Regions from separate parts of the Homo sapiens genome. Here region 2 is linked to region 1. The links come from fine-mapping of genetic effects on gene expression. A gene starts in region 1. The other region holds a variant in brackets. All regions are shown on one strand. Distances are between the middles of the regions. Region 1 holds the start of SDCBP (syndecan binding protein). Region 2 overlaps NSMAF (neutral sphingomyelinase activation associated factor).

Evidence for each region. PIP is the estimated chance that this variant, and not a neighbour inherited with it, causes the effect. A credible set is the group of variants that fine-mapping cannot tell apart.
Region 2: its variant is the best candidate, but not a certain one, in a credible set for the expression of SDCBP in whole blood (INTERVAL, PIP 0.60).

Annotation. Positions count from the first base shown.
Region 1 is chr8:58,550,922-58,555,318 of GRCh38, forward strand. SDCBP (syndecan binding protein) reads left to right here and starts at 2,340. Exons shown (of 9, transcript NM_005625.4): 1 at 2,340-2,382. RefSeq lists enhancers at 1,913-2,092, 1,999-2,716 and a silencer at 2,193-2,722.
Region 2 is chr8:58,641,766-58,646,162 of GRCh38, forward strand. NSMAF (neutral sphingomyelinase activation associated factor) reads right to left here. Exons shown (of 31, transcript NM_003580.4): 2 at 1,219-1,308. Among named protein-coding and RNA genes, the nearest start is that of NSMAF, 16 kb to the right of the region's middle. RefSeq lists an enhancer at 3,679-4,239. The variant G/A (reference allele first, on the strand shown) is at 2,002.

The DNA of each region.
Region 1 (4,397 bases):
AGACTGTCCTTTGCTACTTTGCCAAAGATCTGTTAAATGTATCTGTTTGGGTCAAGTTCTGTGCTTTGTATTCTGTTCCATTGATCTATTTGTTTATTCTTTTGTCAATACCATGCTCTCTTGATTACTATAGCTTTATAGTAAATTTTGAAGTTGAGTACTTCTATGGACTGAATGTTTGTGTCCCCCCAAAATTTATATGTTGAGGCTTAATCTCCAATGTGATGGTATTTAGACCCAAGGTTTTTGAGAGATAATTAGCTCATGAGAGTTGAGCCCTCGTAATGAAATGAATGCCCTAATAAGAATAGATAGAAGAGAATGTGCTTTATCTGTCTTGTTTTCTGCCATGTGGGGATACAATGGGAAGAATGCCATCTGCACACTCAAAAGTGAGCCCTCACCAGATTTCCAGATGTGCCAGCAACTTGATTTTGGGCTTCTCAGACTTCAGAGATGTGAGAAATAAATTTCTGTCGTTTAAGCCACCCAATCTATGGCAATTTGTTACAACAGCCTGAACTAAGGTACTGTTAGGCCTCTGACTTTGTTCCTCTCCTTTGGTATTGGTTTGGCTCTTCTGGTCTTTCATTTTTCCATATAAACTTGAGAATCAGTTAATATCCACAAAATAACTTGCTGGGATTTTGATTGATTTGATTTGATTGTATCAAATCTATAGATTAAGTTGGGCAGAACTGACAGTTAAATATCAAGTACTCCTATCCATGAAAATGGAATATCTTTAAATTTATTTAGATCTCCTTTGAACTTTGTAGTTTTTCTCATTGGAAGTTTTTTTTATTTAGAATTTTGTAGTTTTTCTTGTATAAACCTTTTACATATTTTGTTAGATTTATACCTAAATATTTCATTTTATTTTGGTGCTAATGTCAGTGGTTATTGTTTTTAATTTCAAATACCAATTGTTTATTGATGGTATATAAGAAAACAACAGACCATGTATGCAGGTCGACTATTCCTAGTACAGAAATCCAAAATATGAACTACTCTAAAATATGAAACTTTTTGAGTGCTGACATGAGGACCAAGGGAAATGTTCACTGGAACATTTTGAGTTTTGGAGTAGGGATGGTAAACCCATAAGTATATAATGCAAATATTACAAAAGCAAAAAAAAAAAAAATCCAAAATTGGAAACATTTCTGGTCCCAAGCATTTTGGCTTAGAATGAGCCTGTTTTAAACTTGCTCATGCAAACTTGCTATAATTGCTTTTCATTCTGTTTTTTTAGGCGAGGAGTGTCAATTTTTTCCGGATTTTCTATGTTAGATAACCATCTCATCTGAAAGCAAAAAGTTTTATTTCTTCCTTCCCAATCTACCTTGTAATTATTTTTAAATGTCCATTTCATCAGCCTAACTATAACCTTACTGAGAGCAAAGTTTTCATCTTTAGTTGTCACCTCTTTTACACTCAGATTTTTATTAGTTTTGCCATATATTAAATTATTCTGGCACTAATTTAGCTAGAAATAAACTGCTTGTAAATGCTATTTTGTCAAGGACTCTACAGTATTCCGTGGTAACTATGATTACTCTTGGGTAAACTGTGCCTCAGTTTCTTTGTCTGTAATGGGATGTCTTTATAGACTGATGTGAAGACCAAATAAGACTATACATTAAGTTCGTAGAGCTATGGCTGGCACAAAATCAGCCCTCAAGAAATGATCGTTATGTTTTTTTACTGGGAAGCAATTACTTTTGCGCAGCACCACACCTAACTCTCAATAGCGAAGGAATATTAGCTTAGGCGGACAGAGTAATACGCCCCCCACCCCCAACATCCAAATTTCCAACAGAAAAATAAAGCAGGAGTTGAGAAGGGGTCGTGAGAGGAACGTTTCTGAGCCTATAGTGGAGAGGTACAGCAAGCGGAGAGTGAGACTAGGGCAGCAAGTGGTGGAAGTCGAAGGCATCCCAAGAGGGAACAGGGGCTCCCGAGACCTCTTTGAATTGGAGGCGACGAGAACCAAGCGACCGTGAGCTGCGATGCACACAGTAGTGAGTGGGTGGCACGGGGCCCGCGGGCACGAACAGCCGAAGAGCGGAGAAGACTGGGAGCATAACCGCTGGGCAGCGGGCAGCGGACAGCGGGCGGCATGAACCGCCCCACTTTGCCGGATACCTGGAGCTGCAGGAACGACCCACACCCAGGCCTCTTTACCCCTACCGCCCCGTTACCTTGGGGACGGGATCACCCGACCCGGCGCCGTGCGACTGCGCGGGCTGAAGGCGGGGGCGGTGCCATGACGCGCCTCGGGGGCGGTCCTCGGGCGCGCACCGCTCTCTTACACTCGGGCCTCAGAAGTCCGTGCCAGTGACCGGAGGCGGCGGCGGCGAGCGGTTCCTTGTGGGCTAGGTGAGAGGCCAAGGGGGCAAGGAGGGACGCCGGTGCCAGGTCCCGGGCGCGGGGACTTGGGGCAGAGGTGTGACGGTCCCTGGGCCACTTCACAGACTGCATCCTGGTCGCAGCCGTTTTCGCGAGGCAGCGGCGACGCCCTCTCCTCAGGGGGCTCCGCGCCCCTCCCTGCGCCCTGCTGGCTGGGGGGGCAAGTTTGCGGGAGCAGCGCGCTCTTCCTGCCGCGACCCCGCGCGTTTCGGGTTCCTGCCCGGGCTGGGGCTGGGGCTGGGGCTGGGGCTGGGGCTGGCAGAGCCCGGAGGCCCGGCTGGGTGAACGCCTTCAGCCCCCGCCCCAGCTCTGGGGTTCTTCCTGGGACCGTCTCTCGATCCTTGTTTTCTCCTCGATAAGATCTCGACATAAGAAAGAGCCTCTGGCCACGGTTCCTCCCAGTGCTCGGCGTTTCTAGGGCTGTGCTTAATCGCCCTTCTTTTGGGTTATTCGGAAAGTCCTGGATTTGAAAGGAGGAAGGAAGTGTTTGTTTATTGGGCGAAGCCTTGACTTTTTTGGAAGGGGGTGGGGAGAGGTTGTTCGCTTTGAGCTTTTTCCTGGAGAAGTTGGACCTGAGGGAGAAACGTTTCCAGTAGGGTGTGTTTAGAAGGAAATACCCCTGAGATCTGACCCCTGAGATATGATGACTCAGAGCCTTCCTTTCAGGATTTCCTTGTAATAATGGGAAAGGGAAGGCATATGGATGTGGAAAGTTTTCACTTTTACCAAAGTGGTGATTATTGAGTCATGGAGTCTTCTAATGTGTCCATTTTTGAAAGGAGTTTGTAGATTATCTAGTCTGTATAACCACATACACATTTACTGTTATCTTTTCCATTACGTACATTGCTTAGAAAGTACGCTCGGCTTACCAAACTCTTAACATCCGCTTGTTTCAAAAAGAAATCGTTGATTAAAGCAGGAAATTTACCTTGAAAAACAACTGCGGGCCTTTTAAATTAAATTGATTTCTAAATGTGTATGTGATTAGTTAAAACTCAAATTTGTTCAGTCTTTTTATTTTCCTGTTTAAGATTGAGGGATAACGGTAGAAAATACGTCCTTTTGTCTTCTGTGTTACCAACTTAATTCTATAAAATTTGTGCCTTAAATGGTACATAAATATTATAAATCTAGTGGTTTGTGGCACAGAATAAAAAGAAGTAGAATGACTTTTAAAATGGTCAGTAAATAGTCACTCCATTATAAATTAAATTTAACTTTGGAGACATTAACTTTTAGTTTTGGGCATTATAGGAAAAGATGTAAAAAGGGGAAAAAGATGAACAAAAGGGGAAGAATTTGCTAATGGTTGCCGGTTAAATGTACTGTTTAATTAAAGAGTTTCTTAAAATGAGCGTGACAACTATTTTCCCTGTTTTTGCCAGATTTGGGAACTTTTTATAGGTATTAAATGCCAAGAGATTCTAAAAAAGAAAAGCGCCCCCAAATAACTTTGAAATACTTTCTACTTTTAGCAATAGTTACGTTAGCATTTATTAATTTCTTTTCAAGTGCTGCCAACATGTTTTGTAAATGTATTGTTTTTGAGTAGGTAAACAGTCACTTGTCTCAAAATTTAAGCAGCATAAAAAGGTATAAAGTAACAAGTCTTCTGGCAGGCAGGCAACTTTTTTACATTTCTTAGGTATTCTAGGCAAATTTTATATCTACACAGGCAAACATATAAGCTGTATTTGCCTCCTTGCTTTTAACACAAACGTTAACATTTTATATACTGCTTCACATTTTGCTCTTATTTTTCCAGTTAGTGATCATATTTTGGAGCTTTTCTAATATCAGCATATATAGCTTTCAAGTCTTTTGCTGTTACACTCAGTGCTGCAGTGAATCAACTTTTACATATGTTGCTTCCTTTGTGCACATATATTTTTACACTTCAGGTTTTGAGACCTGAAGTGATACTGCAGAGTTGGAGGGTATCTGAATTTAGAATTTCGGTAAGATAACTGCAAACCCACTCT
Region 2 (4,397 bases), 91 kb after region 1:
CATTGCTAGATCAATAGGTTAATGCACATGTCATCTTACCAGATATTACCAAATACACCTACATGGGGCTGTACCATTTTGCCCTAATAGTTACTTTAAAATTATAAAAACAGGTTTCAGTTTGCTACCTGTAGTTGTATTTTAATAATAAACAAGTACATTTAATTTTAAGCAAGGCACTATGATGATATACGATAGAAGAATGTTGGAAGGAAAAAAGATATGGAATTAGGGAAAAGAATATGAGCAAAATTCCAGAGATAAGAAAGCAAGGTGCTGTGTTCAGGGATGAATAATTGTCTAATTTGATTGAATGCCAAGAAAATAGATATGTCATAAGCTACTAAACAAAAAAACCAAGTGAGTTTTACTTTAGCTTGTATTTAAACAAATACCACATGTTTTTGATCCGTTAAGGATAAACCTGAAGAATAATAAAAATAAGTGGATTTATCTACTGTCAAAGAATTTCCTAAGTTATGGCTTACAGTTGTTAAGTAACCTCCCAAAAGGAAATCATTAGCAGATACCTTTTTGGTGGAACAATTTTCATCTTAGTTAATTCTAAGTTGCCATTTTAAGCAAACAAAAAGCTTCATTACATGCTTCTGTACATAGCTTTCAAAAGGTAAAGTCAAAGAAACAATCTGTTTTTATAGTAGTGAGTAATAGTTATTAAGATACTGAGAAATCAGATCTTGCTTCTAGTTCAAATCGCATGACTCATTTTGAAAGTACTGATTTTATACCACTCTTGTGGTTTATAATCATTACTTTATAACATTGTCACCCGAATAATTGAGAGCAGAGGATACTGCATAACTACAAGAGGGATGCAACAAAAAAATGATGGGATGGACTGGAGTCCTATCAAGCTTAAGATATCTACAACCCCAGAATTGGAACAAATGCTTTTTAGCTTTGAAAAAGGTTTCAAGTTACAATTATAACTTTTAAATACACTCTTCTCATTACTTCCCTAATAAGAGAAAAGATGAAAAAAACTTCATGGGAGATAAAATAATAAACATAGCAAAAACTCTCCAAAAGACTCTCCTAGGTTATAATCCTCAATAAAAGTCTAAATAAAATTTACTTTAATTTTTTTTAAAGCCTAATTTTTTCTTTAGTTAACACCTATATGATCACACATTTAACTTTAAAAGTTCAGATATCAGAAAGGTTTGTTTGTCCAAGGAGATACCGAAGCTTCCTTACCTTTCATGGTGACTGCCCTTGTGCAAAATGTGATTGGCTCTATGCTGTTCAAAGTAGTACTCCTCCAAGTTAAGCAGCAGCAAGGAAAATCTGGATTTGGGGCGAAAAAACAACTTTCAGTTTATTTTTTAGTAAGTATAAGAAGGCAATATATTTAAAACGTCTGATCCCAAAAAGCTTTTCCATTCTTGAATTTAACAAACATTTATGAAGCATGTATATCATGCCAGGCAGTCCTCTCTACCCAGTGGCGGGAAGTACATAGCTGGGCTTGCCTTGTGTCCAAATAACTACTATGTCAAAAATAAAATCACTCACCAGGTGGATGTACTACTCTTTTACAGAAACCCTGAATTTTGTGAAGTTAAACTTATCCTTATCTGAACAAAGCTCAGCGCTTTCCTACTTAGGGAATTTTGAGCATTTGTTTCCCCTGACTGAACAATGCTAGGCTTCCCCACCTCTTCCCTGTCATACCTCCCTGCCCCCAACATCTGCCTCATGGTTATCTGAGTTACTCCCACAAGAACACATGCCTCTAGGGACAGATCTTTTTTTTTTTTTTTGGGACGGAGTTTCACTCTTGTTGCCCAGCCTGGAGTAAAATGGCGCAGTCTCAGCTCAAGTAACCTCCACCTCCCGGGTTCAAGTAATTCTCCTGCCTCAGCCTCCCAAGTAGCTGGGATTACAGGCATGCACCACCATGCCTGGCTAATTTTGTATTTTTAGTAGAGACAGGGTTTCTCCATGTTGGTAAGGCTGGTCTCGAACTCCCAACCTCAC[G/A]TAATCCACCCACCTCGGCCTCCCAAAGTGCTGGGATTACAAGCATGAGCCACCGGCCCAGCCAACAGATCTTTAGATATTCCCTTGTGATAACCAGCCCATGCTGTCTACACAATGGGTGTTTAATAAGTAAAATGAGTAAACCAAACTGAATGGGATTGAAATATAGTTCTTTTTAAAGTTGAAAGTCATTTAAACTTTTAAAAACAAGAGAAGTCATTAAGAAAAATTATTAATTTTGTTGTATGGCTACAGCAACAAATACATGACAAAGAAGTGAAAACAGGCATTTTTTTGTTTTGTTTTGTGATAAGGACCAGGAAACATCAATGAGTTACAGGCAAAAGCTTTCATGAAAAGTGTGGGACTTGAGATGGGCCTTAAGTTCCAGTGTGTTGGAGGAAGAAATTTACATTAAACATGGCAGATTACACATATATGTTTATTTCACTGCCTCTTGAAACACCACTACAATGTGAATAAAACTATTTTTAAATGGTAAAACCCACAGGCTAAAGCAAATTGGAGAGATATTAAAGCAGAGAAGAGACATGAACAAATCTGTGAGAAATGGAAAGCAGACCGGGGGAATAAGCAGTGCTCAGAAATCAGAATTTCAGATGCCTCCAGAGAAGGCACCACTCAGGAGAAAACCAGTTCAAGTCACCGGACTTCCAAAAAGTTCAGAAATTGCAGGATCAAGTGCTAGAGACGATGTGGAGAAATAGGAATGCTTTTACACTGCTGGTGGGAGTGTAAATTAGTTCAACCATTGTGGAAGACAGTGTGGCGATTCCTCAAGGATCTAGAACTAGAAATACCATTTGACCAAGCCATCCCATTACTGGGTATATACCCAAAGGATTATAAATCATTCTGCTACAAAGAAACAGGCACACATATGTTTAATGCGGCACTGTTCACAATAGCAAAGACTTGGAACCAACCCAAATGCCCATCAATGATAGACTGGATAAAGAAAATGTGGCACATATACACCATGGAATACTATGCAGCCGTAAAAAAGGATGAATTCATGTCCTTTGCAGCGACATGGATGAAGCTGGAAACCATCATTCTCAGCAAACACAAGAACAGAAAACCAAGCACCGCCATGTTCTCGCTCATAAGTGGGAGCTGAACAATGAGAACACATGGACACAGGGAGGTGAACATCACACACGGGGACCTGTTGGCGGGGTGGGGAGCTAGAGGAGGGATAGCATTAGGAGAAATACCTAATGTAGATGATGTGTTGATGGGTGCAGCAAACCACCATGGCACGTGTATACCTATGTAACAAACCTGCACGTTCTGCACATGTACTCCAGAACTTAAAGTATAATTAAAAAAAAAAAAAAAAGAAATTGCAGTATCAGGTACCAAGAGGACAGGGTTTGTAAAGCATGAGGGTGGTTAAAAGTGAATGAGGGCAGTAGCCCCCAATTCTTTTCCTGATGGGTTAACCATACTGCACTCTGGCATGTGGTTTTTCTATTTAAAAAAAAGTGGAACAAGAGGCTGCACACTAGGTATCAGGCACAGTGGAGAGCAGGATTGTAGTGTGAAGAGAGGATGACTATGCAAAACATGGAATAGATGAACACTAGTTTGCTGAGAATTATGGTTTCCAGCTTCATCCATATATCACTCCAGGCAGGAGTCTGGTACATTAGTTTTGGAAAAAACTAAACAGCCTCAGAGAAAAAGCCAGGTCTCTACAACATCATCCCACAGTGAAACTCAACTGAAATAGCCCATTCCCAGTGACACAGAATTAAATGCTTCACATTTAAATATGAATGAACAGCCCAAGATCACAGCCTCTAGGATGAAAGAACAAAGCCAAAGCAAGCAGGAAGAATGCAACTTGAAGGACTAAACACAATGCAGAGAACAGAAGAAAAGGTCAAAAGGCTACAATTAATATCCCTACAAAGAAGAAGTTATATTCATAACACCAGAAGAGATGCTCATCAAAAAAAAATAATAGGCCAGGCGCAGCGGCTCACACCTGTAATCCCAGCACTTCGGGAGGCCAAGGCGGGCGGTTTGCCTGAGGTCAGGAGTTCGAGACCAGCCTGGTCAACATGGTGAAACCACCTCTCTACTAAAAGTACAAAAATTAGCCAGGCGTGGTGGCGGGCGCCTATAATCCCAGCTACTCGGGAGGCTGAGGCAGGAGAATTGCTTGAACCTGGGAAGTAGAGGTTGCAGTGAGCCAAGATCGCGCCACTGCACTCCAGCCTAGGCAACAAGAGCGAGACTCCGTCTCAAAATCATCATCATCATCATCATCATCATCTGAACCAAAAGAAAAGTAACTCAAAAAATTAAAAATGATAGCAGAAACCAATTTTACCATCCTAATCTGTAACTTTTATTGACCTGTCCTC